2 separate regions of the Homo sapiens genome follow, and region 2 is linked to region 1. Evidence: fine-mapped expression QTL. A gene starts in region 1. The other region holds a variant in brackets. All regions are shown on one strand. Distances are between the middles of the regions.

The links. PIP is the estimated chance that this variant, and not a neighbour inherited with it, causes the effect.
Region 2: its variant is fine-mapped to the expression of PRKCD in whole blood (INTERVAL, PIP above 0.99).

Annotation. Positions count from the first base shown.
Region 1 is chr3:53,154,420-53,170,033 of GRCh38, reverse strand. PRKCD (protein kinase C delta) reads right to left here and starts at 8,825. Exons shown (of 19, transcript NM_006254.4): 1 at 8,606-8,825; 2 at 4,819-4,930. RefSeq lists enhancers at 959-1,639, 1,640-2,320, 2,436-2,505, 2,516-2,625, 10,978-11,057 and 1 more and silencers at 7,874-8,103, 8,374-9,323.
Region 2 is chr3:53,189,190-53,204,803 of GRCh38, reverse strand. It overlaps PRKCD (protein kinase C delta), which reads right to left. Exons shown (of 19, transcript NM_006254.4): 17 at 15,558-15,614; 18 at 14,803-14,931; 19 at 12,087-12,696. The coding sequence ends at 12,538. Among named protein-coding and RNA genes, the nearest start is that of PRKCD, 36 kb to the right of the region's middle. RefSeq lists enhancers at 1,604-2,103, 10,337-10,631, 12,499-12,758, 13,706-13,835 and a silencer at 8,694-8,743. The variant A/G (reference allele first, on the strand shown) is at 7,273.

The DNA of each region.
Region 1 (15,614 bases):
TCCACATGATGCTTCCCCACTTTGGGGATATTGAGAAAGCTGGGAGAGAGGCAGGACCATCCCGCATGGTGCGCCATCCCACAGCAGGCAGCGGACAGAGGAACCGGCGAGCTTGGACCTAGACAGGCCTAGCTCAGATCTGCTGCCTGGGTGCTCCGCGATCTTGGCCCAAGTGCTCTGGTGTCTTCCAGACTTCCTTGGAAAGTGGGAAAAGAGGCTCTGTTAAGCCCCCCAGCCGCAGGGTGCCCTGTTCTGGCCTGAGGCTCTGGGCAGAACTGGGCTGAAGCAGGCAGCATGAGTCCACTGGCAGAGGCTGGCCAGCTACTGCCCCTCCCGGGGCTCCAGCCTCCCTGTCTCAACAATGGAGACCTCTAAGCTTTCTCCAGCCCTGACACTGGAGGACCCTGGGATCCTCCTCCCACCCCAACAACCCCAGCCCACAACCTACACCACGCAGACATCTGATCTAGCCTCAGGCCTTGGCGACTGCCTGCTCTGCTCTGCCTGTTTACCCAACACGGCCATAGACATGATCCAAAGCTTCCGGAGCTGTTGTGAAAACAGCGGCTCAGCCACCACAAGCCTGCCCTCCTGGGTGCCTTGGCAGAGACCTTTGAGGGACAGCCATCCCAGTCCTGTTCGTGGGCCTCTCAAATGCTCCCCCACCCCTTAGAAGGCCTGTTGAGCCCTCTCCTCCCCAATCCTGGCTTTAGGCTCCCGTCTCTACTTTGGGCCCAGACCCTCCTGAACTTCAGGCTTGTGGCCCCACCTGCCTCCCTGGCTTCACCACATGAATGACTCCAGAAGAGCTCAAGCCTGCCCACACCAGTCCCCCGCCGTTCCCCTCCCAGCGCTCCTCATCCACTAGGAGTGCACGAGCTCAGGCAGTGGCTCAGGCCAGACAGCTCCCCCTGCTCCCCACACAATAAGGCCATCCCGTCTGCCGCTGCAGCCTGTCCTCAAGTCTCAAATCCTCTTCTCCCACCACCACCATCCCCAGGCTCTGCACCTGTCTTCTGACTGCTCTCCATCCTCTACCCCGGCCCGACAGTCCCCCTGTTCCAGCCACCAGACGGGGCTTTTCAGACAGATTTTGTCACCCCCTGCCCAAGCCCCCAGTGCCTCCCATTGCCCCTCTGACAAGCCCAGACTCCTCCCCTCAGCCTGCTCCATGCAGCCTGCCCCCCGCCACCCCCCTCCCCATCACCGTTACCTCCCTGACCTCTCGGGCAGGCGCTGCCTTTCCCTCATTCCTGTGCCCCAGCCACGCTGACCCCTTTCAGTTCCCGAAGCAGCCAGTTCCTTCCCGCTTAGGAGCCTCTGGGCTTGCTGTTCCGTCTTCCTGCTCCACCCCACCCCACACAGTGGCTCCTTCCCATCGTTCATGTCTCACAGGACACCACACCCCGTGATCTGCCCATTTCACAGACGAGGCAAGTGGGGAACGGTCCAGTCCCTGGCTCAAGTGTGCACAGCCAGTAAATATTGAGCAAGGATTCAACCAGGGTCTGTCTGATGCCTGCAGAAGTCCTGCTCCTAAGCCTTCAGGATACCCTCAACCACACTTCCCGCCCAGGCCCATCCACCTTTCGCTCTCCAGCCCTCAGGCCCCTGCTGTTTGCATCACTGTCCTTACCACTCCTCAACACTCCTCATCCCCAGCCTCTGGGCCCCACACAGTGAAGGCCAATGCTTAGCCCAACCCTAACTGTGCTGACCTTCTTCGTGTCCCTGGGACAGGCTGGGCCCTGCCCCCAGCTGCCATGGGTGTAGGGGGTTTTCTAGCTCCCCCTACTCTTCTAGCTTCCATCAGTCCCAGATGCCCACTCCCTGCCCCAGCCCACAGGCTGACTCCAGGGGTCTGAAGGGTAAGCAGGCTGGCAGGAGGGCTTACGTCCACCCCCTCGTTCCCAGCCAATTCTCCCAGCCTAATGTCCTGCAGGAGGCCAGAGCTGGAGAGGGCCAAGGGGAGCCCTGAGGGGGCAGCAGGCAGCTGCAGACTGCCTTTCCCCTCCCTGCATCCATTTGTCACGAGATCTATTTTCTCCCTTTGAAAGGGAGTGAGGGGGAGAAGAGCAGGCAGGGGCTGGACTGCTGAGTGGGTGGAGCTGCTCCAACAGGAGCTCCTCTCCTCGGAGGGCATGGAACCTACTGAACAAGTAGGGCACTGCCACTGGAGGTAGAATTGAGGGGGATGAGGGAGTCAGAGACCTGGCTCCTCAGCCAGGCTCCACAGCCACCTGGCCATGTAACACTGGGCCAGTGCCCAGCCCATCAGATAATAATACCCCCTCATCAGTCCCACTTGCTATTTTTTGAATAGTTCCCATGAACTGGGCTCTAAATGCTTTACATAACTACAGTTTCTACTCATTCAACTCTGACAATGCACTAAGCACGATGCCAGCTACTTTGCATATGTTATCTGTCATTTCCGCACAACCTCATCAAGATGGATGCTATCATTATCTCATCTGTCAGGGGGAGACTGAGGCACTGAGCGGCAGAGCCACTTGCCCAGGTTCATTCATAGAGCTGCTGGGAGCTGCCTAGTCACTAAGATGCAGCCCAGCCATCACCTCTCTCAAGGGGGCCATGCCTACCAGAGTTGATGCTCTTGAGCCTCGGCTTACAGGCTCAGAGCAAGAAAGGAGCCACGGTTGTGGGGACTGCAGGGGACTTCGTGACCTGCCCCCTGCCCTTCTCCTAGAGCCCCCCAAAAAGGCCTGGGCAGCCCTGGCAGTGAAAAGCCTGGTCAGTCAGCCTAACCCGGTGGCCAGACGCTGCTCCCCTGGGCAGGCAAGGCAGGGGCGGAGCAAGGCGTAGAGCCACTGACAGAGGGCTGGTCAGTCCCACTCCAAAACCACTTCCTGGGCAGCTCAGAGGAAGTAAGCCTCCGGAAACGCCTTGAACAGATGGGCCTCTCTCCTAGGCCCAGGCTTTGGGAAGTGAACAGACAGCCCCTGCCAACCTCTCAGTCCCTAGAGCCCAGCAACTCCACTCCCTCTAGGCATGGACACCGTGGGGGACACAGGAGTTGATAGGACCCCCACCCACTGTGAGCACCTTGGCCCCATGGCCAGACAGCCTACTTCCTCTGCTGTAGCAGCAGGCACACAGTGCTGGCACAGCTGACACAGCCTCTCCCCCGCATTCATGCCTCCCATCTCCCATGCCAATCCCTGGTCGGCCTGGAGCCTGGGGCCAGGTGGGCAGGGTGGCTGCTGAATGCATGGGCAGAGCCCACCTACCAGGGTGGCCCAGCCCCCCTTACTGAGATCACAGCCACACCTGGAACTTGCCCCTCAGGTGCCAGATGCAGGCGACCTGACTGGGCTGTAACTCTGACCAGGGACCCCTTCCTGACCCCAGAATGGGCACAGTGCGGTATGTGTGGGCAGGCATTTGAGTGCATGGATGCCAACGGTAACTGGGAGAGCATCTGTGTGTGTGTGAGTGTGCCATGGGTGGCTGCATGTGAGCACCTGTGTACCTGCATGCCCACATGTGTGGTGCACGTACAGGAACTCATGAGTCTGTGGGTGTGCATGCCCACTGCAGCCTAGCTTGCCATATCCCTGTGTGAGCACGCATATGTCTGTGCAGCTGGAGGGTGATGTCTGAGGGTTTACAGTGGGCTGTCTCCAAGACTAATCAAACTCCTTACAAAACAAGGCTGAGTGACGGAAAGGGCTGGCTCTTCAGAACTTAGGTGGCAGAGGCCCCTAGACAGCCAAAGGCGCTTTACTTCCTCCACACCAGGTTTAGGGACAGGTCCAATACACAGAAGGCCCAGTGAAGACTGCTCCTGTTCTGTCCCAACTCCTACCCCAGAGTGAAGGCCCTGACCTCCCTTCTGCCCCCAACCCAGAGTCAGGCCCAGGAAGCCCAGCCTTTATGGCTCTACTCACAGACCTATAGGTGCGTAACAGCCAGTAGGGTTGGCTGTGAGGGTCTGCTCAGGGAGCACTCCTGGAGGAAAGACGGTCTTTGCTATCCCCCCACTGTTACTCCGAGGCTCCAGCTTCATTAGCACCCATACCCACCACCAGTACCCTGTTCACTGGGGCCCGGTCACCCAGTCACCAGCCTGGAATGAGTATGGAGTCACCCACAGCAATGTTTTCATGGTAATAGGGCTGAAGGAGGCAAGGCTCGCCCCAAAACAAGGAATTTCTAGCTTTCTGAGGGGATTCAAAGAGACTGCAGCCTTCCCAGCATTGTTCCAGACTCTGCCTAGCTCCCCTTGAATCTGGAAGCTGAAGAGAGGGACTGAGCCCTGCTCGGGCTCCAGAGAAGCTGGGGAAAATGGAGGGGCCTGGGGTGTGGAAGACAGCTCAGCTGTACCTGGAGCTGGAGACCCCATTCCATCCCCCTGCAGTGTCCAACCCACTGTGGGGCCCACGGGGAATTTCAGTGTCCTTGTGTGATGATGAGGTGAGTTTGAGGCAGATACAGGGCCATGGAAAAGCTGACACACCCACCCTCAATCTTTGGCCCATGAGCCACCCTCTCTAACTGACCAAAAAAGCGTTACTACTTTTTGCCCCAAATTAATGGTAGGCCCCAGGCCTCTGAGCTCCAAGGTGAGAGCATTCTGGGGCCACAGCCAGGTTAGGCAGGAAGTTCCTCATGAGCAGAGAGCCCCTCATAGACAGGGCAAACAGCTGCGGCCCCTGGGCACACAGGGCCCACAACCAGATCAAGGACTCTGCATGCATGCCCAACCCCATCCAGTTCCACAGCAAAGGACAAAGAGGCCAGAGAGGAAGGCTACACCGGTGCACCATCCATCTGCCTAAGAGAACTCAGTCCTACCTGGGGCTCCCAGCTCCTGCTTGTCCTTAGTCCTGGCTCCCGCTGCTGCTACAACGCACCAACCACCAGGAGAAACGGGCCTGCCCCCTTGCCTGGCCAGTTCCCTGCAGACCTGTAGGAACAGGAGGAAACAGCTGAGCCGGGAGGCACCGCCAAACAGGCTCTCCCCGTCTACCAGTCCCAGCATGGCTGACGGGCCCAGTTCAGTCTCTCCTGGACCTAAAACCTCGGGTCTCTCTGGATGTGGCTTTCCCTTCCTTGAAATGTGGTGTTGGGCCCAACTTTTCCTGGGCACCACTATTTGTCCACTCCATGGTAGGGGCTGGAACACTGTGTCCCTGCCCTGAGCACATTTCCAGCCTGGTGAGGAAGCCAATAACACAGCAAAAACCTGTTCCTGACCCTCCTGTCTGTGGGAGGTTGCCTTGCAGGTTTAGGAGTCCTAGGGTGCAACAAAGTACCACCACTTTATGTCCTGGTGCAATTTCCCTGAGCCTCAGTTTTTTTAATGGGGAAACTACTAGCCTCTTCTCCCCAGGTGGTTCTGAGGTTCCAATGATGTGGCGTGCCAGCTCCTGTGCTGGACTCATGTTGAGAATGCCAAATGAATAGTGACTTTTTTTTTTTTTTAATGTGGCAGGGTCTCACTCTATCGCCCAGGCTGGAGTGCAATGGCACGATCTTGGCTCACTGCAACCTCTGCCTCCTGGTCTCAAGTGATTCTCGTGCCTCAGCCTCCTGAGCAGCTGAGATTACAGGTGCGCGCCACCACACCCAGCTAATTTTTGTAGTTTTGGTACAGACAGGGTTTCACCATGTTGGCCAGGCTGGTCTCAAATTCCTGACCAAGTGATCCACCTGCCTCGGCTTCCCAAAATGCTGGGATTACAGGTGTGAGCCACCGTGCCCAGACTGAAGAGTGACATTTTTTAATCTCTTGTGCCTTACAGTTCAGGTGATTCTCACATTACTATTGTGCCCATTACACAGCTGAAAAAACTGAGGCCTGGAGATATCCTGGGAGGAAGAAATGGCAAAGGTAGCAAGGTACTCTGTGTCTCCTGGCTGAAAGGCCTAAGCATTTTCTCTGAAGGCCAGCTCAAGCCTCTAAGAAAGATTCTGCTCCCCAGATGTGAACCCCTCCCCCAGCTGGAGACCCCCATCACCATTCCCTGGGGGCAGAGGCATCCTTGGCTTTATCTTTTTGTCTGTACTTTAAATTATTTCTAATTTTAATCTAAACTGTGCCAGCTAAATGGTGTCAGCGCCCTGCAGTCACAGCTCTGAATCATCCCCCACCCCTGTCTCCCCCATCGCTACTACTGACACTAAGGTCTGGTGAGGGAGGGGCTGTCATGCAGGCTGAACAGGGCTGGGTACTGGGGGCTCTGTCTGGGCATCCCCCCTCCCTCAAGCTGCTTGGTCAAGGAGATGGGAAGGGGCAACAGACAGGCAGGAAATTGGGTTGGATACTGTCTGGGCTTTCTTTAGCCCCAGCTCCCAGGAGAATGGGAACCGTATAGCTGGGGGTGGTGACAACAAAAGACTTCACATGTGCTGTGTTCTCACTATGGGCCAAGATTGTGTTAAAGGACCTTTAACACAGGAACTTTTGTCCTCACTCTCTCCATTCTGCAGATAAGGACACTCAGCCTTGAGAGGCCTAGCTTGGGTCTCTTGCTCTTAACAGGCACAAGCAAGTATTGGAGCCCAAATAATTCTTGGGTACAGAGCCCGAGGTCTTGGTCACAACACTACAAACCCCAAGACTTGCCCTCTAGCCCTCTCCATGTGCACACCCACATCCTCATGGTCTCCCACACACTCACACACACACCCCCACACTGGGCTCTCACCTTCCCTCCCAGCACTGTCACCACACACCTTGTCACACCCCCTCCTGCCGCTAACACCCACGCCCAGGCACTCTCGGTTCCCCACAATCACAGTCACTCCCCAAGCATACACCGGCAGTTTCATAGACTGTGTCCCACCAGTCACACACTCCTACCGTGGCCACACACTCCCAGGCTTACCCCAGCACTGTCCCATCGCATAGCCCTCACACCACCCATCAGCCAGGTACAGCTGCCCAGACACCACCACACCTCTCTGTCACACACACACGCACACACACAACCACACATATCACACATGCACCATACAGCCTCCCTCTGCTGGCCTGCTCACCAAGCCCCAGCTCACTCCACAGCAGGAACGAGGAAACCCCAGGGATCAGTCCCCTCCCTTAGTGACCAGGTGGGCCTGGTCACAGAAACTCAGTGGCAGAGGGAGAGCCACACGTGAGTACACACACATACACACACTTATACAGATACACTCACACATGAGACTGGTGGGTAGGCACCCAACACCAGGGGCTTCCACAATTAACAGATCTAACGTACTCATGGCCAGTTGGTCACCATGATATACCCAGTGTGCAACACCGAAACCTCCAGACACACAGGGACACACACACTAGCAGGCAAGGACACACACACACACACACACACACACGAGTCTGGTGACAACAAACACACCAAGAATGGTACACACAGTTGCAAAAGACACACACAGAGCCTCAGGACACAAACAGACATACACACATACACACAAGCAAGTCACACATGCGAAAAAGGACACACATGCACAGGCAAGTCCCACAGTGACAGACAGCACAGAAGCTGACACAGACACACAACATACCCACACACCCAGATACCAGTGACTTAGCACAAGGAGACAGCTTCCACGCATACAGGGTAGGCGTCAGAGAAGGGGACCCCCCGCCCACTCACAGCAGATCCTTCTGACCAGGTTTAAGGCGGGGCTCGGTGGGGCTCTCCCCTGCCCCAAGAGAGAGGGAACTGGGGAAGTGGGAGCAGTTCCGATGGTGCTCTCCTTCTGCCGCTCCACCACCAGCCAGGAGGACCCCCCCCCCCGACCTCCTCCCCTCATCTGGTGGAGCCCCCACAACGGGAGTGGCATCTGGGTTGGGGGCGAGTACAGACCGTATCGGGCAGGGGCCACCCTGGGAGGGGTCTCAGAGGGGCGGAGGGGTGGGGTGGGAAGGGGGATGGTGGAGACTGGAGCCACGCCCAGCCCAGAGACGGATGAAGGGACCGAGAAAGACTCTTGAGACCGAAAGAAGAGACAGCGAGGAGGAGGCGCCGCGCGGGTCGGGCCTCCAGGGACCCAGGGGCGGGAGGCGAGGCCCGGCGGGCGGCCTGGCCTGGGCCCCGCGGTAGAGCGGAGAGGCGGCTGGACTGGCAGGGGGCGGCGAGCGTGGGCCGGGGGCGCGGCTCCGGGAGGACGGGATCGAGGGGGCGGCGGGCGGGGGTAGGGGTGTGGGTGGGGGTGGGGCGATGGAGCACGCGGAGGGCAAGGGACGGACGGATCGGGTGGCGAGGGACAGAAGGATCGGGTCTCGGAGAGGCGCGCAGGGGGAGAACACAGAGTGGGTGGCGACAGACGGACGGACACAGGGCCCGGGAGAGAGTCGGGAGGGACGGACGGGCCCCTCGGAGGAGCGGGAGACACACGGGCGGGTGGAGGGGCCGGGAGCGGGCAGACAGAAGGACCTCAGCCCCCACTGTCTAGCGGAGGGACACACAGACGGACAGGGGGACGGAGTCACCGGCAGGTCTCGGCGCGGCGGGACTTTCGCTGACCGCGGCTCAGTTTCTCAGTTTCGGAAACGGGAACTGGGGCGGGAAGGGGGAAGGAAGGGCGCCGCGCCCTCGGGGTAGCCCCGATCCCGCGCCCGGACCCGGCCCTCACTTACCTCCCGTTGCAGGGGCAGGCGCCAAGGGTCGCGGCGGCAGCGGCGGGGGCGCCGCTCCCCGGCGCGCGCGGACGGGGTTCGGCGCGGCGCTGACTGGGATGGGCCAAGCGGCCAGTGAGGTGTGGCCCGGGCCTCCGCGCGGCGGGCGGGCGCCGGGGGTCGCTCGGGAGATGTGGGCTACAGCCGCCTCGGGCTCCGGCGCCGCGGCACACGGAAGTGCGAGGGGGCGGGGCCGAGCGACCTCACCCAGGTGCCGCCGGCCCCGCCCCCGCCAGGCCCCGCCCCCGCCAGGCCTCGCCCTGCCAGGCCTCGCCCCGCCAGCTGCAATCGGGGACAGCGTCCCTCCGCCTCTGCCTGCGCGGGACACCGAGTCTCCCGGTCCCTCTGCCCTGCCTGGCCCTCTTCGCATCCTCCCGCCATTAGCGCGCAGCCAGCCCTCAGAAGGGGCCCATTTTACAGAGGAGGACGCTGAGGCCCGGTGGGGAGGCTCCCTCCGCCCGCTGGGGCCTGGGAGGGGCCGGCGGGGGTTCCCCCGCTCCCCACACCCACGCCCGGGACTCCCCACTGGCCAGCTGGCCCGCCTCTCCTGGCCCCACTCCTGCTCTTCCTGTTGGCTGGAGCTCGGACGCGGCCGGGCGCGGTGCCCGCCGCCAAGCCCGCTGTCCCGGCTCTGCCCCAAAGACTGAGCTGGTTAGACTCCAGGGTCGGAGGTTCTCGCTGGTCGGGCGCTGCACTGCTCCTCAGGCGGTTCTGGGAACTGCCCCTACTCGGACTGGCAGTTGCCCCTACCCCGATTGGCAGTCTTCTGCTTTCCTGCCCCCACCTTTGAGACCTCTCTATTGCTCCTGGCAGGCGCCTGAGCCTCCTTTCCAGACATGGAACTTGGTTGTCAGCCATAACTCCTTCATTCATTCATTCACTCATTCATCTATTCACCGAGTGTCCCCTAGGCTCAAAGTCTAGGGACCAGTTGGGGTTCTAGGGAGTCCATTCCCCTGTCCCCAGAGCTCAGAAAGCCAAGACATTAGCCTTATACTCATCCAAAGAAATGTCACTTCCCAGGAGACAAAAAAGAGGGTTCCAGGTCCTGGGGAACCACCTAGAAGGGATAGAGAAAGTCTAGACAGCTCTTCCCAGCTGAGACACAAGGGATGGAAGTGGGGGACAATCCCTGAGGTGGCCTGAGCTGAGAAAGGGGCTTGTGACAGAGACAGGCCATTGGACTTTGGTCTTCTCACAGAGCAATGAGAAGGTGGTGAAAGCTATTACAACCAGGCAGGATGACAGGCTCAAGGGGGCTCCTGCGGGATAGATGGGGCAGAGGGACAGCAGGGCAGAGGAGAGGCTGGATGGGGGACAGAAGGGCTGCCACGTTGTTCAGGTGGGAGGACCCTGGTTGAGATTGCGGAAGATGGATGGGGAGAAAAGGCCAGACCAGGTGGGTTCAAGGACTATCCTTTGGGAAAGACTTTCTCTTCACACCCAGGCCTTGAGCATGCTGTTCTCTGGGCCTGAATGCCATTTCCCACCCCACCCCCAAACCTCTACCTGCCCTGGTTGTGTCCATTCAAATGTCCCTCCTCCCTGATGCCCAGTTGTAATGCACGGCACTTCCCTGAGTGAAGGACCATATTCATTAGCATGTTCTGTGTCCTGATCCCATCCCACCCCACCCATCATGCCCCATGGCTTCCCTGGGGTTGGACTGGAGGAAAGGGTAAACAAGGTGAGCCTCAAGTGACCTTTGCCCACTTGGGATCGGGTTTCCTTCTGGCTCCTCCTTCAGGTCCACAGTAAGCCAACCCAGTCTCTCCCTCAACATAAACAATAGGCCCACCCTGTGCCAGGGACTGCAGCCAGAGGGAGGACTGACCCTTGAGGAGCTCCAGGTCCAGCCACCAGACCTTTGTTCCCACTCCGTGTGGTTCACCATGGAAGAAGGAAATGAATAATCATGGCTATCGCTGATAGGGGCTACCCAGCACCAGGCTGTGTGCTGGGTGCTGGATGTGGGCAGTCTGAACAGTTCTCAAGAGGTGAGGGCTGCTGTTAGTGCCAGTTTTGGTGATGAGCAAACTGAGGCTCAGAGAAAGGAGAAGCGACTTGCCCCAGAGTACACAGCTAGTCAGTGGCAGACGCAGATTCAGACCGAGGTCTGTCTGGCTCCAAAGCCCATAGTTTACATCAGGGATCTCAATTTCAGCACCACTGACCTTTGGGACAGATGATTCTTTGCTGTGGGGGCTGCCCTGTGCACTGTAAGGATGTTGAGCAGCATCCCTGGCCTCTGCCTAGTGGATGCCAATAGTACCTCCCTGCTTTAACTTGTGACAGACAAAAATGTCTCCAAACATTGCCAAATGTCTGCTGCAGGGCAAAATTACCCCTTGTTGAGAATCACTGCTTTGACATATACTGGTGTTACAGGAACAAGATTTACATTAGACAACAGGAAGCACTTTCCTGATCCTCAGGATATGCAGACTTGTGAGCTCAGGGGCTGCAAGCATACACTGGCTTCAGCCAATCTTTCTCCTCTAGAGAAAGGGGAAGTGCGATGTACTCAGAGAGGGTCAGAGGGGCTAAGGCTGTGCTAGCTATGCTGTGGCGAGGGCAGAGAAGGGATGAAGGTGGGCTTCCCTCCAGGCCTTAGGTCCAAGGGTTCCAGGGAGAATAGGTTTGCATGAGGTCCAGAGAATCCAGGCCAAGCTTGACTAGAACCACCCTGCATCTTGGAGCTGCTTCTGGGTGCCACACTGGTGGGCCAGGGCAGGGTCCAGATGAGCTGGTATCTGTGTCCCCATAATCTGCCTTGCATCAACAAGAAGGGCCTGCTGAAGCCTGAGAGCAAACCTTGGCTGTGTCACATGCCAACTGTATGACCCTGAGTAGGTGACCATGCCTCTCCCAGCTTCAGAGTTCTCACCTATGAAAAGGGCTGATGACAGACTCATGTCAGGAGTTGAATGAGGTGGTAAGAGTTAAATGAGATGATATATACAGAGCCTCGGCCAGGCTAGACACATTGCCCAGGGTTACAGCCTGGTCATGTGCCAAGTCACAGGCTGTCAGCCTTGAAAGAGGCTTCAATGGCCTCTCCTGACATGGGGCGTAAATCCCTGAGCAGGGCTAGACTCATAGCAGCTGCCTAGAGGTGATACTTTCCTCCTCCTCCAGGTTTGCAGCCAAGGAGATGGGCTAGGGTGGTGCCAGGCAGCTTCCAGACTCCCACCCACAGCATCCACCCAGGGCTGTTCCTTCTGTGGGCCTCCTGGAGGATTTATCCAGAGGAGAAGCAACTTGACCCCTGCCACCTCTGCCTCCTCCAAAGGCCATCAACCCTGGGAGGCCTCCAGACTCCTCCACTCCTGAAGTCCAAGACTCGGCCAAGCAACCTGGAAAAGGCCTCCCTCTGTCCCTGAGGCCCACACAGCTGAAGGCAAATGGGGTCCCTCACTTGATCCCTGCCAAGAGTTGGTCCTTGTCCTGGCATTTCTGCTTTTTGCACCTTCTCTCTGTTTCTGTCTCTCTGTGTCACCATCCTTGTCCCTGAAGCTTTGGTTGCCACGGCAATCCCCATCACACCCAGAGCACTGGCCTGGCCAAGAGAGAGTGGGCTTGTGTTTCTGGAGCAGGAGACACAGTCAACAGCGACAGTGCACCTGGGCAATTGCTGGGGGCAGCAGAGCCTGGGAGGTTCCCACTGGGGACAGTGTAGTAGGAAGGACACTTGGGACATGCCCATGCCTCAGGCCACCAAGACTGTCATCGACAGGAGTGTCAGCCTCAGGTACTAGGTTAAGGACAAGCAAGGACAGGCTGAGGGGGACAGTGGCCTTGTGGGTAGTGCTGCACAGCAGGGAAGTGCCAGCCCAGGGGCTGGTTCGCATCCTGGCTCTGCCCTGCACTGCAACTTAAATGTGCCTCAGCTTCCTCATCTGTGGAGTGGTGTTTGGTTAAGATCGACCTCCTGAGGCTGAGAGGATGGAAGAGTTCAAGTTCATCCCATGTTGGTGTTACCTGCCAGGCAGAGAGTTGGTGAGGCTGGGCTAATTGCCTCCATGTTCCTTCCTCAACACATTTGTGTTTGGGTGAAACCTGAGACATACTTGGGGGTAGACAAGGGGAAGGTGTGTCCTGGGAGTGCAGAACACAGGGCTTTCCTGTGGCTCTCCCAGGGGTGTGTACCCTGGACTGTCCCTTCTCTGCACTGACCATGGCACAGCCCCTGCCAGCCTGAGTCCCCTTCCCTGGCTCCTCTGCCCCTGCCCCCAAACATGTGTGTAGGTGGGGAGAAGGGGCACTGGTGTTGGGACAGTCATCAGCAAGAGCTATCCCCTCGCACGGAGTCCAGGGGACCTCCCAGCTCTCCTCCACCGCCCCCATCCCCGGCACCCATTTAGCTCTAATCTACGGGGTCCCTACTGGGAGGCTCATGGGGCTTAGCAGGGCAGGGAGGGCTATAAGCCTCACCTGCCTTTCCTTTCGCTCCCTGGCCTGAGGGTGCCTCAGCTCCCCGCTCCCACCTCTCAGCCCCTCATCCCCCACATCCTCAGAGGACAGCTCACCAAACCCAGCTTGGCCCATGGGAAACAGTGTAGGGGGTGGCCCTGAGCTGAAAGGCGGCTGCTCGAGGTTGGCAGGCTGGGAAGGACTGACTGCAGGCACAGCAGGGTCCCCCGCGCCGTGCACACACCTCCATACCCACCGCACAACCACGTACACGCCAGTCGGCGCGACCCCCGTGCACCAGCACAAAGTCCCCCGGGCCCCACCCTCCCGCCCCGCCCCGCCCCGCCCCGCCTCAGGGAAGCCTTTCCGAGCCGGGGGCGCAGACGCCCGCCCAGCCGCGTGACGCAAACCCCGCTATAAAACACCCGGCTCTATTCCCGGGTCCGGCAGCCACCTGGCTCCAGGCGCCGGGAGGCCCTTTCGCCTCCTCACCCTCTTTGTTCTCCAGGAAAGTCAGGAAGACCTGAGCTCGCCCATTCCTTGGATGGAGCAACTGAGGTCCTGGGTGTGAGGGTCGTCCAGGGCACTGCAGCCGGCCTCCTAGTGGGAACCTCTGAGAAGACCTTGAGGACTGGGGGCTGGATATGGGATGAGAGGGGAAGAGGGAGAGTCACCGAAACCTGGAAAAGTAGCCACACACATTGGCTGTTCTGATTTAAAAAAAAAAAAAAAGTAATACATTTTCTATTAAAGCAAGGAAGACAGAGACAAGTTTACCGAGGAAAGTAGGAATCTCCTGTAATCGCACAGGTCGTTTCATCTCCCCAGACAGACCTGCCCTCCGCACTGTCATTGCATGCTATAAATTGTCCCTTGAGGACACAATCGGGCAGGCTTTGTGAAGGGGGTTGCGTGAGGCCTTCCAAGACTGAGCAGAGCAGCCTGGGGCTCAGGACTCCCTAATCCTTGCCCTGGGACAGGGATTGGAGGAATCCTAGGCCCCTGACCCAGACTTCACCCAGGGTTTGCCAACAACTCTTGGCAGAGCTGTGAGCAGGGACAGTGGGCAGTGCCAGAGAGAAGTGGTTGGGCCAGTTGGACCGGCAGAGGCTGAGCACCCAGCACCCTCCACCCCAAGTCCTCCAGTGATATGAGAGGCCCTGGGCACGAGGGCACTTCTGCCACCCACCTACACTCCCCCTGCCACTGCCCATCGAAGCCTCCCCACCAAGCCTCTGCTCAGGTTGTGCTTTGCCTTGGAATGCCTTTCCATTAAGCTCTAGCCATTTGATGAGGTCCCATGCAAATGGTCCTCCTGCAAATTGTCCTCCAGGGAGGCTCCCAGATCCCTGCCCCTAACCAGAGGCATCCTCTGCTTCCTGTAAGCCCCCCAACTCCACACTGTCTACTGCAGAGGCTTCAGAGTGGGAAGAACTAGCATGCAGCCCCCATGCTGACTGGCTGTGTGACCTGGAGCAAGTGCCAGCCCTCTCTCAGCCTCAGTTTCTTCATCTGTAAAATCTCCAGGCCTTGGGGCTGCTCTGAAGATAAATTAAAATGTTGGAAGCAGAGTGCCCATTTCTGTGCCCAGTACTAGAAATAGGCAGCTGGGCTGTTCATGTCCATCTCCCCCAGACCATGAGCTCCCCTAGCAGAGACATGCCAGGGGAGCTCCTCCCCTGATGCCCAGCAGCCTGCAGTGGGCAGAGGCAGAAATTGGCAGGGGAGGAGCCTCCCCAGGGAGGTGAGTCTCACCCTCAGGCTCTGCCCACCCCACCACCTTCACATGCCTGGGCCCTGCCTCTGCCTGCAGGCTTCTGTGGGCACAGGCTGTGGCCATCTTGGCCACAGTGGCTAGGCAGGCGGCCAGGCCACTGGGCAGGCCTGGGCAGCAGTAATGGTGAGGCCTTGGGGCCGGAAACACAGCCAGTTCCCAGGGCAGCCCCTCAGGGCCCGTGGGTACTGGGCAGGCATCCCAGGGCAGTAGGGGGCAGGGAGAAGGCTGGGATTTCTGAGTAAGCGGTGGAATTTGGGTCAAGGGCTGGGGTACTGAATCTAAGCCCTCAGGTGGGCCCCATGCAGGGCCTCTTACACCTCCACTCTAGGCCAGTGGAGCGGGGATTCCTGCCAGCTTCTGACATTTATTAATAGTTGTGCTAGGGTGGGCACTGGAACTGAGTCCTCAGCTTCAGGTACCAGGCCCAGGATCACAGGGGTCTCCAGGTATGGAGAAGGTCTGGGACACAGCCGGGGGGCCTTGTGAAAATGATGAACTAGAATTTCAACTTGCCCTCGTGTTTTACAACCTGGATATCTGGGAAGTTCATGCTGATGTCTGCCCTAGCACCCTCATGTTGCTAGAGAAGACCTGCTGGTCTGTCTGCTGGAGGGGAAGGGTGGCTCCCTGGTGTGTGGGCTGCTCCAACCCTAGGGTACCTCTCTGGAGGGAGAGCTGGAGGGCTGCATGGGGAGACTTGGGGGAAGTGCCAGTGGGTTTGAGTGCTGGGCTGCAGGGGCTGTGGCGGGAGTACTCTGTGGAATCTGACTTTGGGTTCAG
Region 2 (15,614 bases), 35 kb before region 1:
CTTGGCTTGCCTGGACTGCCAGCTTCATCTACTCAACTTGGGAGTCCACTGGCCTCCACCTGGATCCCCCCTCCCTGTCCCACAGCCTGGAGACCCTCTGCAGTCAGTAGAGCTGGGGCAGTCAGGGCTCAGCTCCCTCGTTTCCCATCTCTCAGATCACTGTCCTTTGTTCCTGATGTCCAGCATCTTCAGAACTGCTGTCTCATCCATTTTGTCTGGAGTTTTAGTTTTTCAGGCAGGAGGGAAAATACAGTCCCCTTTTTACTCCATCTTGACTGAAAGCAAAATTCCACACCATTTATTTGGATAAATAAATTGTGGTAAATTTATGTGATGGAATGCCATTCAATCGTTAAAAGAAATGCACTTGACCAGTCCACAAAAGACCACGTATTACATGATTCCATTTACTTGTTGTTTTGAGATGCAGTCTTGCTCTGTTGCACAGGCTGGAATGCAGTGGTGCAATCTTGGCTCACTGCAACCTCTGCCTACCAGGCTCAAGCGATTCTCCTGCCTCAGCCTCCCAGGTAGCTGGGACTACAGGTGCCTGCCCACCACCGTGCCCAGCTATTTTTTCTTTTTCTTTTCTTTTTTATTTTTTTGAGATGGAGTGTTGCTCTGTGGCCCAGGCTGGAGTGCAGTGGTGCAGTCTTGGCTCACTGCAACCTCCACCTCCTGGGTTCAAGCAATTCTCCTGCCTCAGCCTCCTGATTAGCTGGGACTACAGGTACATGCCACCACACCCAACTAATTTTTGTATTTTTAGTAGAGACAGATTTTCACCACATTGACCAGCCTGGTCTCGAATTTCTGACCTCAGGTGATCCACCTGCCTTGGCCTCCCAAACTGCTGGGATTACAGGAGTGAGCCACCTCACCCAGCCTAGGGGCTGCAATTTTATCTCTACTTGTTTCTTCATCTGGAACAGAATCACTATACTTTTTTAAATGTCTGAATGTTTTCTGATATTTTTTTTCTCTTCTGAGACAGATTCCAGGCTGGAGTGCAGTGGCACGAGCTCAGCTCACTGCAACCTCCGCCTCCCGGGTTCAAGCAATTCTCTTGCCTCAGCCTCCTGAGTAGCTAGGACTACAGGCGTGCGCCACCACACCCGGCTAATTTTTGTATTTTTAGTAGAGATGAGGTTTCACCATGTTGGCCAAGCTGGTCTCAAACTCCTGACCTCGTGATCTGCCCGCCTCGGCCTCCCAAAGTGCTGGCATTACAGGCATGAGCCACCGCACCCAGCCTTTTTTTTTTTTTTTTTTTTTTTGAGAGGGTCTCACTCTGTCACCCAGGCTAGAGTGCAGTGGCGCAATCACAGCTCATTACAACCTTGACCTCCCAGGCTCGAGCGATCCTCCCGCCTCAGCTTCCCAAGCAGCTGGGACCACAGGTGGACCACCATGCCTGGCTAATTTTTTAAGAGATAGAGTCTCACTATGTTGCCTAGGCTGATCTCGAACTCCTGGGCTCAAGTGATTCTCCCACCTGGAAATCATATCACAACTCACAAAGTGCTAGGATTAGAGGAGTGAGCCACCATGTTTTCCTAATAAGACAACTTGTTAGATAAATCACTCATTTTCCCTCATGCCAGGTGCCCTTCCGTACCCTGCAGGTGCAGCACCCCGCTGAGGCCAAAAGCCCAGTGCTTTGGTTTGACTTCCCATCGCCAATGCAGAAAACCACTAGAGAGTTTAACAAACAACTTTTCCTCTTCTCTTGAAGTTTGTCTTTGGCTTCCACTGAAAAAACAACTTTCCTGCCACCCCTGCCTGTACTCCATCTCCTCCAACCTTCTAAAAGCCCCCGGAAAAGGCTGTGGAGCTGGTTGGGGAGCCATCAGTAGTACCCCTGTGGGCACAGCTGCCCCCGTGCCTCCACCGGTGGCCGCTGCTCCGCCCTCTCTCCCCAGACAGGTTGTCAAGCTGCCACTGCCACGAATTCTCCCATCAGCACAGCCACTGCCTGCCGCCTCCAACAACAACTGCCAGGCTCATTATAACCTCCACCTGCTGGCCACAGCAACCGCCTCTTAGCACACCCAGTGGCGGTGGTTAAACTACTTTATTAAACCCATCATCTCACCTCTACTGGTTCCCCCTCACTGAGAGCTCACTTTTGATCCAGCCTCACACAGGCTGAAGTGGGACTAAATTAGGCCTGGCCTCGGCAGTGCAGGTGCTGCACCAATGGCTAGCCAGAGGTGGGAGCAGAGATGCTGTTCCTCAGGGGACCGCATGTCCTTGGGCCAGGGTGCCTGGTTGTTGGGCCAGGATTCCCAGGGTCATGCACACCCCTGCCTTTGCCCAGCTCCCCGGGCTTTGCTCAGGCTGCTTCCTCTGCCTGAGACTGCCTGACCCCAGCGTCTCGCCTACTCATTCTTTCTAATTTTTAAAAACTGTGAAATGTCATATCCATAAAGAAAAGCACATAGAACAAAAGAACAGTATAACAAATTATTATAAAAGGACGCCTGGGTAACCAGCCATCAGATCAAGAGTCAGAACACCTACATATTCTTTAAAAGACACTTTAAAAAATTATGGATCATTTGGAACACAGAGACAAGCACAGAGACTAAAATAGACAACGAGCATCCTCATCTGTGTGACTCTTGAGGCCACCAAGGCTGTCCCCAGCAGAGACACTGCTGGTCTTCAGTGCCCACAGAGTGCCAAATGACTTTCCAGGAGAATGGGGCCAACTTACATTCCCACTGCTGCGAATAGTGCCTCCCCCATAACCCCGCCCTGCCCAACACCTACACCTACCACCAGCACTGGGTATTATCAGACTTGAAAAGTTTTGCCAGACTGACTGTGAGAGCTACTCATTCTTTGGGTCTCAGGATTACATGTTCCTCCTGATACAGGGCAGATGAGCCTCAAAACTGGGGCTTAGCCTCGGAGGGTTCTTGGCTTTACCCAGAAAAGAATCCAAGGCCAAGCAGTGGTGTTAGGCAGCAATTTCTTTTGTTGAGACAGAGTCTCCCTTTGTTGCCCAGGCTGGAGTGTAGTGGCACAATCTTGGCTCACTGCAACCTCTGCCTTCTGGGTTCAAATGGTTCTCCTGCCTCAGCCTCCCAAGTAGCTGGGATTACAGGTGCCCACCACCACGCCTGGCTAATTTTTGTGTTTTTGTATTTTTAATAGAGACGGGGTTTCACCATATTGGCAGGCTGGTCTTGAACTCCTGAGCTCAGGTGATCCACCCACCTCAGCCTCCCAAAGTGCTGGGATTACAGGTGTGAGCCACCGCACCTGGAGGACAGCTATTTCTATGGAAGCGGCAGCGTGCAGCAGCATGCAGCAGCAGCAGAGGCACTGCTCCTTGCAGGGCAGGGCTACCCCACAGGCACTGTGCCGTGAGTAGCCACGCAGAGGCAGTTCTGCAGTCAAATTTATACCCACTTTTAATTATATGCAAATTAAGGGGTGGATTATGCAGAAAGCTTTAGGAAAATGAGTGGTAACTTCCAGGTCGTTGGGTCATTGCCATGGAAAAGGGTGGTAACATCTGGGTGTTGCCGTGGCAACAGTAAACTGACATGGCACACCCGCGGTTGCATATTACAGAAAACTGCTTGCCCCCTCCCTGTTTTAGCTAGTCCTCAATTTGGTCCAGTGTCCGAGTCCCACATCCTACTTCACCCGCTTCCAGGAGACCTTCCCTGGTTGCCACAGCCCACCCAGGAAGAGCCAGCGCCTCTGTATGCCCACAGCCTTTGTGGGCACCCCTCGTCCCCACACCACCACGTACTGTGATCGTCTTTACGCACCTGCCTCCCAACTGAGGGCATGAGTTCTGTTCCTTGATTGCGTCAGCTTCCCACCATCCTGCAGAGCCCCCAACATGCCATCACAGAGTGAATTAATGAGTCCAGCCTTCATTTCAAGGTCAAGACCACTAATGCACTAAAGCCTCCAGTACCAGATCTGCCCTTAGTAGATGCTCAAGAAACATCAGCTCAACCTGCACATTCATGCCCCAGACGCTACCAGTAGGGGCTACATTTGGGGGTCTCCAGGTGGCTCTGCAGCTGAGCCTCTGGAATAGGCTGGGGAGGATCATGAGGGTGGAGGCAGGGAGCTCAGCATGGGCTGTAAAACCAAATGGGGGGAGAGAAGGGGGCCATGTCGCAGGTGTCAGCTGTTCTTTCTACTGCTGCTGCAACTTTCCATGGAATTTTGTGACAGTGGTAATTACCGCCTTTCCTAGGGTTTGATTTTAATTTGTGCTGAGAACTGGGGTATTTGACGTTCAAATTTTCTTTCTCGCAATTTAAACTCACATGAGGCTCACTTGCTATTCCTACCAATCTTAGACACATTTTCTGCTGTGGAGCTGGCTGCTGGCCCAAAGCCCACAGTGAGAGGAAGAGTGAAGGCCCCTGTTTCAGGGACTGGAGCCCACTGCTGACTCATGACTCAGGGCTCTGTACCCCACTCCCATGCTAGGAAAAGTGTGTCCCCTTCCCACAGAATTCCTTATGCTTACAGCATTGTTATGAAGAGATCATGTATGATGACATGCAAAATGTTCATGGAGTTAAGAATCACATTCTTACATTTCTGGGTGCTTGGCTGCAGTATGAGTTTTCCATGCATTGACCTCTTAACAACCATATACTATTATGCACATGCTGCAGATGAGGAAACTGAGGCTAAGAGAGGCTGAACAGCCTGCTCAGGGCCACACAACTGGGATGGGGCAGGCAGGTGTAGACCCAGATCTGACTCTGAGCCCTCGTCCCATGGTTTGGCCATCAGCACTGCCACCTCCTGGCACATGCCAGGCAGAGTATGCATATGGGTCCATTATAAACAGGGGCATTTGATATCAAGCAATTGACAAACGTGAGCTAGGTTTAAAGACTTTTTTTTCAAAACATACCTTTTTTTCCGGACAGGGTATTCAAGAACAATTAAGCTAACAAAATTCATTTTTGATTCAATGCAAATATTTTGTGAAGCATATTATTTTTAACATATTATTCATGCAAAGTGTGTCTAAATTGGCTTAACTGTTTCTCAACTCATGATTTACAACACAGAAAGTGGCTTGGAGAGGTCTTGCCAATGCTACTGATGGCAGTGGGCTGCCTAATGGGCTGGGTCCTCCTGCTGCTGCCTTTTTTGAGACAGAGTCTCACTCTGTCGCCCAGGCTGGAGTGCAGTGGCACGATCTTGGCTCACTGCAATCTCTGCCTCCTGGGTTCAAGGGATTCTCCTGCCTCAGCCTCCCAAGTAGCTGGGATTACAGGCGCCTGCCACCATGCCTGGCTAATTTTTTTTTTTTTTGTATTTTTAGTAGAGATGGGGTTTTGCCATATTGGCCAGGCTGGTCTCAAACTCCTGACCTCAAGTGATCTGCCCGCCTCAGCCTCCCAAAGTGCTGAGATTACAGGCATGAACCACCATGCCCAGCCACTGCCCTGCTCTTGAGCCGGGTCCCCACCCTCGGCTGGGGCGGCTGGCCTCCACCACCCACCTGCTGGAGGACATGAACTCTAAGGCCTTGGGCTTTGGTTATCTGCCACCGTTAGTGCCACAGGCAGCACTAGAGGCCACTCCTAACTTTACCTACTTCTTATCCTTGTCCCTCCTCATACCAGAGCAGGGGAGGGGAAAAGAGAATGAGAGGCAGGCTGTGCTGGGGTGAAGCGAGCACTCAGTGGACACTCGGTATTCACTCACCTGTGCTCATTCCTCAACACTGACTGGCCACACACCACGTGCTGGGCTCACTGTGGGCTTGCAGTGGGTGCAAAGGACACTGAGTCAGGATTCTGCCCTCTAGGAGGTAGCATGTTGGGGACCAGCTGGCTGTTCTCTTTGAGGGTCTCCCTGCATCCCTGCCACTACCTTCCTGTGCAACCCTGGCCCAACCCCTTCTCCTCTCTGGCCTCAGCTTCCCCACTGTGAATCCATGGATATCCTCACTACAGACCCATAATCTCCAAGGGTCCTTCCAGCTCCAAGTCAGCCTGCCTGTGCCCATCGTTGCTGCCCTCTGCTGTCCCTGCCTGCCACTGGCTCACTTCTCTCTTATTGGACCCTCTGAGGACAGGACCAGGGTAGGGAGCCCTCGTGTTCTCTGACAGTTCCTGAGCAAGCCCAGGAAAAGAAGGGAGAATGTCCTGTTGTCTCTACAGGAAACATGACAAGGGAACCAACTCGCAGATGGAAGGAGCCCCCATTCCAGAGCTGTAGGCCACATCACTCAACCTCTCAGAGCCTGGGTTTGCTCACCGGTAAAAGGAGAGAGTCCCAGCCGTTTCCTCACGGGGCTGTTGTGACGACGAACTGCAGGCAACCATGCAGGAAAAGCATCAAGCACAGTGCTTGTCCCAGGGTGTTCTGACATGGGCTCTCAGGCCACACACCATGAGTGCCAGGCACAGTCATGCCTGTTGAGTGATGCTCGTCAAGGTCCTGGCACACAGCAGCCACCTGTTCCATGAAGGAATATACAAATTTGGGAACAGAGCGCAGCACTGCCCACCCTACTCACAGCTCCTGCATCTACCACCCCAGGTGAAACTGATAGAAAGCTAAACTCCCCTCTCCTAAGAAGAAAAAGGAAAAGTACCTTCCCCAAAGCTCTGAGCTTTATCCAGTACTTAATGTGGGCTGAGCAGCAAATGTCAGGGCTTTCAGAGTTATGTATTTCAGGACAGAGACAGAGAAGAAATTAGGAGTCTTTGTATTAGTCTGTTCTCACACTGCTAATAAAGACATATCGGCCAGGTTCAGTGGCTCATGCCTGTAATCCCAGCACTTTGGGAGGCCGAGGCAGGCAGATCACCTCAGGTCAGGAATTCGAGACCAGCCTGGCCAACATAGTGAAACCCCATCTCTACTAAAAATACAAAAATTAGCCAGACGTGCTGGCAGGTGCCTGTAATCTCAGCTACTTAGGAGGCTGAGGCAGGAGAATGGCTTGAACCTGGGAGGCGGAGGTTGCAGTGAGCCAAAATTGCACCACTGCACTCCAGCCTGGGAGACAGAGCAAGACTCTGTCTCTAAATAAATAAATAAGGCCGGGCACGGTGGCTCACGCCTGTAATCCCAGCACTTTGGGAGGCCACAGCTGTAGGATCACCTGAGGTCAGGAGTTCAAGACCAGCCTGGCCAACATGGTGAAACCCCATCTCTACAAAAATACAAAAATTAGCCAGGCGTGGTGGCAGATGCCTGTAATCCCAGCTACTCAGGAGGCTGAGGCAGGAGAATCACTTGAACCTGGGAGGTGGAGGTTGC[A/G]GTGAGCCAAGATCGCGCCATCGCACTCTAGCCTTGGTGACAGAGTGAGACTCCATCTCAAAAAAATAAATAAATAAAAAATAAAATAAAATAAAGACATACCTGAGACTGGATAATTTATAAAGGAGTTTTAATTGACTCACAGTTCTGCATGGCTGGGGAGGCCTCAGGAAACTTACAATCATGGCAGAAGGTGAAGCAAACACGTCCTCCACGTGGCGGCAGCAAGGAGAAGTGCAGAGTGAAGTTGGGGGGGGCGGGGAATGTCCCTTATAAAACCATCCAATCTCGTGAGAACTCACTGTCATGAGAACAGCATGGAGGTAACCGCCCCCATGATTCAATTACCTCCCACTGGGTCTCTCCCACGATACCAGGGGATTATGGGAACTACAGTTCAGGATGAGATTTAGGTAAGGACACAGCCAAACCATATCAATCTTCTAAGCCCCACTTAAGAAGCCTGATTTAGGAACTGGCGTTCAAGTTCTGAAGACTTAAATCACTGAGGCTATGTGAAGGGCTGATTCAATCTGACGACCAGACTCAAGGAGTGCCCCAAACCTCACATGTCTGGCCTGATCTGGGCTGTGCTGACTCAGGCCTGGCTCTCACCTTTGGGGGCCTTTGTCCCCATTCCTTTCCTTTGCTGCCAGGTCTTGTATTTTCAGCTGCATGTATCTCCCCCTGCCCCAGCCTAAGGAGATAAAGTGCCTGGGAGGATGGTCAGCACTCAGGAAACCACAACCAGCTCCCCAGCCTCTGACACCACAGTCGTCCGGGATCACGTGCTGGGCACAGTCAGGGTGCAGGGGGGAGCTGAAGATCCCATCCAGCTTTGAGGGAGGCCGAGGAAGGGGCAGGTGCATGGTGAGCTCATGGGCACGGTGGCTCACGCCCGTAATCACAGCACTTTGGGAGGTCGAGGTGGGAGGATTGCTTGAGCTCAGGAATTTGAGACCAGTCTGGGTAACATGGTGAAACCCCAACTCTACCAAAAATACAAAATTAGCCAGGCAGGGTGGTACATGCCTGTGGTCCTAGCTACTCGGGAGGCTGAGGGTGGGAGGATTGCTTGACAAGCCCAGGAGGTCGAGGCTGCAGTGAGCTGTGATGGCACCACTGCACCCCAGCCTGGGTGACAGGTCAAGACCCTGTCTCTAAATAAATTAATAATAAATGGGGGAATGTGGCTGTGACGTTGGAATGGTTGAATTTAGGGCGGTCCGGAGATCCTAAAAATACCAGGGGGCTGTCTAGCTGTAACCTCCACGTCTCTGAACCTCTCCAAAATGGTCACCCAGTACCTCTTTATTGAAATATTTCCCCAGGGAGTAGTGACACGAAGTGAGAAAGCCGGCGCTCCCTTCCACGGGGGTCCTCCCCTCCTGGGGTCTGCGGCCTCAGCGCCCGCGAGCCTTCTGGCCGCCAGAGGGCGCTGTAGCCCAGCTGGGGCCGCGTGCTTTCCGCACCGTTCTTCCCTAGCCACCAACCCTCCGCCCGTGGTCCTTGCGCAGGCGGGGCGCAGGTTGTGGAGGGGATGCTCGGGCCTCTGCGGGCCAAGACTGGGCCATACAGGCAGGTGACTTCGCCTTCCAGGGTGTGGCCTGTTCAGAGTAGCATTTTCTGGCTTCACCAGGATGACTGGGCAAAATGCAGATTCCCCAACTGGCTCTGCGCAGGTGGGACCGCAGGGGCAGCTTTCAAAGTACTGATGCCCGGCCCTCCACAGATCACCGAGTAAGTAGACCAGGGCAGCCTGGCATCGGCTTCCAGTGACAGCCAGGGCTGAGACCCGCTGGTTAGAACTTGACATGGTACCAACACACGCTGAATTTGGGAGCCACTGCCTTAAAGGGACTTGGGGTCTCGGCAGTCCATTCATTCATTCATTCATTCATTCATCCATTCATTCATCCATCCATCCTTCCATCCATCCTTCATCTCTGCAGCTCTTTGCTGTGCCTGAGACCTTGGATGCCCTCACGAGCTGGCCTGTGGAACCACAGGGTAGAATCTGGCTGCATCTTTGATTCTCTCAATGTCTCTTTTTGCCGATCACTTGGCCCTGCACCACTTTCCACGCCAGGAGAGTATTTAACCAGTTCCCCGGCTGCTGGGCCTTCTGCTTGCTTCCAGTTTTTCCATTAATCCATGCAGTGGTGGGCTTCCTGGCAAGCCTTCTGGGGCCCTTGGGTGAAGTTCCCAGGTAGCTCTGCCTGAAAGGCACCACTGGGTCATGAGGCGGGTGCATTTAACCGCCCACCTGCGGTCCAGTTAGAGGACTTGCACTCGAAGTGCAGTGTGCAGTGGACAGGCCTGCTCTCCTGAGCATGTTTCATCCCACCCGGGCACGGGGTCATAGTGGCTGCTGTTTCCTATGCACCTAGTGCACGCTGAGCTCATGCCCTGCACTTAGAGACATCATCACAGTCCACGGCAGCCATCATGGTAATCCCCATTTTACAGTAGAGGAATTTAGGGCACTGGGAGGTTAAGTCATTTACTGAGGTCACACAACCAGGGACATGCACAGTTCGAACCCAGGGCTGTCTAGTAGCCGAGCTCATGCTCCTGCCTCCAGGCCCTCCTGTATCCATGCTGCTCGGCCCAGCACTGATGGGGCACCCAGCTCTGTTTGGCCCTTGCAGGGTCGGGGGTAGGCTGGCTGCTGCTCAAATACCTACTTGGCAGGTGGGAGGCAGAGGGCAGTCTGCCTGCTTCAGGGTCCCCAGGTCCTAGTGAAAGTGTGGTTCAGGGCCCAGCCTTAAGAGGCATTTCCTGAGGCTGCTGGGTCAAGCCTGGCACCCACCCAATGGCTGGGAATGGGCCTGGAATGGTGTAGCCTCCCAGGCAGTTTGGCAGTGTCCCCAGCAGCTGCTTCCTGTCCTGGGCTGCTTGAGGTGGACCTCACGGGCCCAGCCCCTGTCCTTTCCTGGGCTCTGCCTGGCACCACTGAGTAGTGGACCAACAGTCCTACAAGGGCCTGCCAGAGTCAGTTCCATGAGGCAGCAGGATTAATGGTCTGGTTTTACAGATGAGGAAACTGAGGCCCATGAAGGAACTCATCGAGTGCCTGGTATGTAGGTAGCGGAGTGGAATTCAAACCCCAGGCTTCTGATTCCAGGCACCATGTTCTTCCCACCACCCTCCACTGCCTCTGGCTGATAAACAACCTATTCCCCGGTTCCACACGGGAGGAAACGGCTCGAGTTACAAGGCTCCGCTTTGGTGCTTCAGGAGGACGCTGGGAGGCTCTGAGTTCAGACACCAACCACGTTTTTGTTCTAACCTCCCTCTGAATGGCTCCATGAGGGTTCTTGGGGAATGTGTGTGTTGTGGCAGAGGCAGGGAACAGGGGGTCTCCAGGCACCTCCTCTGGGCTCCTACAGCCCCAGTGTCCCAGAACAGAGCCTATGCCATGCTGCCAGTTCCTCCACGTGTGATCCCACAGGACAAGCACTTTCTGAGGTTTTCCCTGCTGTCCTGGACACCCAGGCTGGCCCAAGGCAGAGCAGGAATTCAAGAGGAAGGTTCCTTGAGAAGATAGGAGGTGGGGAGGAGAAGGGGACATTTGGTCTCTTTGGGGAGAGTTTGGCCCCCATCCCTGCAGCCCCCTCCCTGGGCCAGCACCAGCCCCATACCATCCCACCCTCTCCGGTTGTGGAAACTTGTACCTCAGCCCAGAAAAATGAACTTGCTGGAAGTCAGTTGCTTGGCTGCCCAGGCCAGCCAATCCGGTGCTAGGAGTGCCTCGCCCCCCTCTAGGGACAGAGGGCCAGGGCTGGACCAGAGGGGCTGAAGAGCAGGCTCTGCCTGAGACCGGTGTCCCAGACAGCAGGGCGGGAACAGAAAGAGGGAGAGGTAGCGAGGGAGGCGGAAGCAATGAAAAGCCAGGAGAGGGGGAGACATGGAAACGGTGGGGAGGAGGGCAGAGCAGACACACTGTCTCCAGCTGTGCACTCTTGGGGGGATGCCGGCACCTCCTGGTCTCCTGGAGCCATTCCTCACCTGCACGACAGGCACACTGGAGCATGTCTGTCAACCTTGGCCCAGTCACTCAGCATTTTTCCACCTTTCTCTCCCACCCTGCCTGTCTCTCCTTCCCCAGGTAGGCAAAAGCTGCTATGATATAGATTCTAGAATTTAGACACAGACTCCTCTGCGGCAAAGGCAGGGATAAATGGTAATGAGATGAGGAGTTACAGCTATGGTCTCCTTGCCTTGTCCCCATTTTAGAGGAAACTGAGCCTTTTTCTCCTTCTTTTTCTTCTTCTTCTTCTTTTTTTTTTTTTAAAGAGACAGGGTCTCGCTATGTTGTCCAGGTTGGTCTCAAACTCCTGGGCTCACACAGACCTCCCACCTCAGCCTCCCAAAGGGCTAGGATTATAGGTGTGAGCCACCACGCCCACCCAATACTGAGGCTTAAAATGATCAAGTGACGTGCCCACATCCTTTGGCTACTCTGTGATTTAAATCCAGATATGCTTGAAGCCTGAGCTGTATTTTCTTCCTCTCCCTTGTCCTCCTCCCTCATCTGGAGCCAGCCTCAAAGCCTCTGCTCATGTCTTCTACTTCTCTGCCCTTCCAGAGACAGCTACAGCTGGTCCCATCACCCCACAGAGACATCTGGGGCTCCCTGTCGCCACCCAGAAAAGCTGTCTGCCTTAGGCCCAGGGTCCTGGGGCCAGAGGAAACCCATAAATACAAACACATTTGCATGAAGGCCCAGCAGTTGGCTTCCGGGCCAGTGCTGCCAAAAGTGGGAGTGGCCACCACCAGCTTCCTGGGACAAACGTGTCCTGACAACCAGGTTGGTACTATTTGGTGTTTATTTAGACACACAAATAAACCTGGTGGTTCAAACAGCTTGTGCTCCTTTTTTTTTTTTTTTGTCATATATATATTTTTTTGAAAAAGATCAACATATCACCAGTCCCCCATGGTTTTTCTCTACTGAGCAATATATACAGCCTATTATATATATATATATGTCTATGTATATAATATATATTTTCAATAGATAACTACATTCAAGTAATGAAACACAGGATTTACAATTTCCCTCCGAAGGCAGAGGAAAAGCAGATTCACACACAGTTCACAGAGGAAGTACCATGAGAGCCCGGCCAGACGGCAGCCAAGGACGCTCTGGGGGCAGGGGCGGGGCCAGCAGCAGAAGTCACCACAGTCCCACTGGTGCTTATCGTGGGGAGCGGGCAGGTGTGGGTGGAGGGCAGGGCTAGCCTGATCTGTCCAGGAACCTCAATCTTCCAGGAGGTGCTCGAATTTGGGGTTCACAAAGGAGAAGCCAGCGAATGCAGACTGGTCCATGGAGTCGATGAGGTTCTTGTCGCTGTAGGAGAGGCGCGCCTTCTCGTTCAGGAACTCCTGGTCAAAGTTACTGTAGTCTCTGGGTGACTTCTACAAGCAGAGGGCAGGGGTGAGCGAACAGGACCTAGGGAATGGCCCTCCAGACACCCCAGGCTGGAGTCCCTGCAGGGCTGGGCCAGGCCAGAGCTGTCCTCACCCAGAACAGAAGACAGAGCCTCCCCTAGCAGCCTGAAAGGAGCCCCATGGGAAGGAGGCTGCCATTTCCCCAAGAGGATGAGGAAAGTGACCAGGGAGCTCTGGGCCTGGGTTAGGAGAGGTGGTAGCCTCTTGCTCAGAGACCACCGAATCACAGCCCAGGGAGGCTCACTTACCACCTGTTTTTGTGGGGACCACAAGCTAAGAATGGCTTTCACATTTTTAAATGGTTGGAAAAAAAATCAAAAGAAAAATATTTCATGACATGAAAATTAGGTGAAATTCAAATTTCACTTTCCATAAATAAAGCTTTTGTAATACACAACCATGCCCATTTGTTGACATACTGTCTATGCCTGCTTTGAGACCATCAAGCCTGAAAAGCCTAAAATATATACTATCAGGCTGTTTACAGGAGAAATTTGCTGATTCTCTGCTCCTGAGGATATGATGGGATGGTAATATAGAAAGACCGCAAGCTGGTGGCCCTTCAGCCAAACTGAACTGGCAAGTACAATCATTTCGGCTTGTACTGGGTTTTAATGGAATTTGAACCTATATTTTATTTATTTATTTTTATTTATTTATTCATTTAGAGATGGAGTCTCACTCTCTTGCCCAGGCTGGAGTGCAGTGGCACGATCTCGGCTCACTGCAACCTCCACCTCCTGGGTTCAAGCGATTCTCCTGCCTCAGCCTCCTGAGTAGCTGGGATTACAGGTGTGCACCACCGTACCCGGCTAATTTTTTTTGTATTTTTTGTAGTAGAGACGGGGTTTCACCATGTTGGCCAGGCTGGTCTCGAACTCCTGACCTCAGGTGATCTGCCTGCCTCAGCCTCCCAAAGTGCTGGTGTGGGCCACTGTGCCCGGCCTGAACTTATATTTTAAAATTGAGCAATGCAACCTAAAAATCCAGATTTCCAGCTTCTTTTGAAAACTGGCAGATTAAAGCAGCCCTGGGCCCACTTCCTGCCCACTCTTGGTGCTAAGAGCCCCCTGGACAGCCCCTGCCCCACTGACAAGGGGTACATCACACCTGCTTTGTGTTTCTTAGTGCGGAGAAGGAAATCTATCAAAAGTGAGACTGAAAGCAGGCTGTGTGATTTTCTTGCAGCTGGCCTAGCCTGTCAGTTACATGCTCAGCCAGGACACGTCTGAGTTTGAGGTCCCTGGTGTAGGGGAAGTGCTCTGTAGCCTCAAAGCACAAATGTGGGGCGCATTACACAGGCTGCCCAGTGGGAACTGTGTGCCCTGGTGGAGGAGGGGAATCAAAGGACAGAAGGGGAGTGGGAAGGAAGAACTGTGGTCACAGAGGGGCCACACAGCCCCAAATTTCTTAGTGGCCCCACCTGCCTCTGCTCTCAGGCTGGTTCCTTGGTAGCCCTGTAGATTCTGGGCCTGTGAGTGAACCAGCCCCTCTTCCACCTGGAATGCCTCCCAGCTGTCCCTTGTCTCACTTCTTCCAACGGGGCCTCTCAGACCCACCCTCTTCTCTGCCACCTGGGTTCCTGCTGACAGACCCACTCAATAGCAACGGATCATGTGTCCTGGGGCATCTCTTATACTGTCATCTCGTATCACAAATTGTCATAGGTGTGCAAGTTTCTTATCTCTCCAACTAGCTGAGAGCTCCTCCGGTTCTGGGACTGCATCTCCCACTTTGCTGTGCAGCCCAGCACTGTGCTCTGCATTCAACAGGGACTCAGGATTCCCCATATGTATTGGAAAATGGATTGAATGGAGCGATAAAGTGAGGTCTTAACTCTATTTCCCAAAACAGGGTCCTCTGCATACAGTGGGATCCACAGTCCCCAGTGTGTGCTGAATGACTGAGTCAGGAGGGAGAGGATGAGAATACAAGGGCAGCGGCTGTGACTGAACATGCTATGGAGATTGCTGGAAGAAGGGAGAGGTGGAAAGCGTGTGAATGATGCAGGAGAGAGGGAGGGCAGGAGAGGAGTAGCTCAGCCTGAAGGCAGCACAGGGCAGGATCACATACCACTTTGGGCCTGAAAGGTGGCTCCAACCTCCGCTTTTCCAGCAGAGTCCAGTTTATGGTCTTGAAGAAGGGGTGGATTTTGATGTTTCCGGTCACTCCCAGCCTCTTGGTTGGTTCCCTTTCAAAGAGCTGCAACCCAGCAGGGACCCTGGTTAGCACCCAAGGGCCATGGGAAATTGGAGCTTCAGCAAATCCCCAGCAGGCCCAGGGATGCAAAGCCAGGCTTGCCCCAGCCCCAGTCAGCCTGGGGAACGGTGGGGCTGAGGGAGGCCACTCTGGCCTGCAGTGCTCCCAGCTCCCCCGGAGATGACAGGCTCTGGGCTGGACATCTGCGACTCTGCTGGTGGAACTTTTTATTATTTACTATCTGCCTGGCCCACAGCTGAGCATCATATGTTTCTATTTTCTTCCCAACAACTCTGTGAGTCAAGTCTGCTCATAGCCCCATTTTACAGATAAGGAGACAAACTCTGAGAGGTTAAGTGACCAGCTAGTCCCAGGCAGAGCCAGCATTTGGCCTCGGGTCTGTCTCCTGACCCTGGGCCCTTAGTCACCATGTCAGGCTGATTCTATGCACAGGACTCAGACAGGAGTTCCTGGGAACATGGTGAGAGAGCAATACCCCGTATGTTAGGACTGCAGCACCACTGAGGCTGCCATTCCAGAGACAGGAAGCTCCTCACCCAAAGCCCAGTGTCTGCCAGCCCCTGCCCCAGCCCAGCCCAGACCAGCCCAGCCCAGCCCAGGGCCTCCACCTTCTCCAGGATGTCCTTGGACTCCTTGGTGATCCAGCGGGGATAATGTGGCGTGTC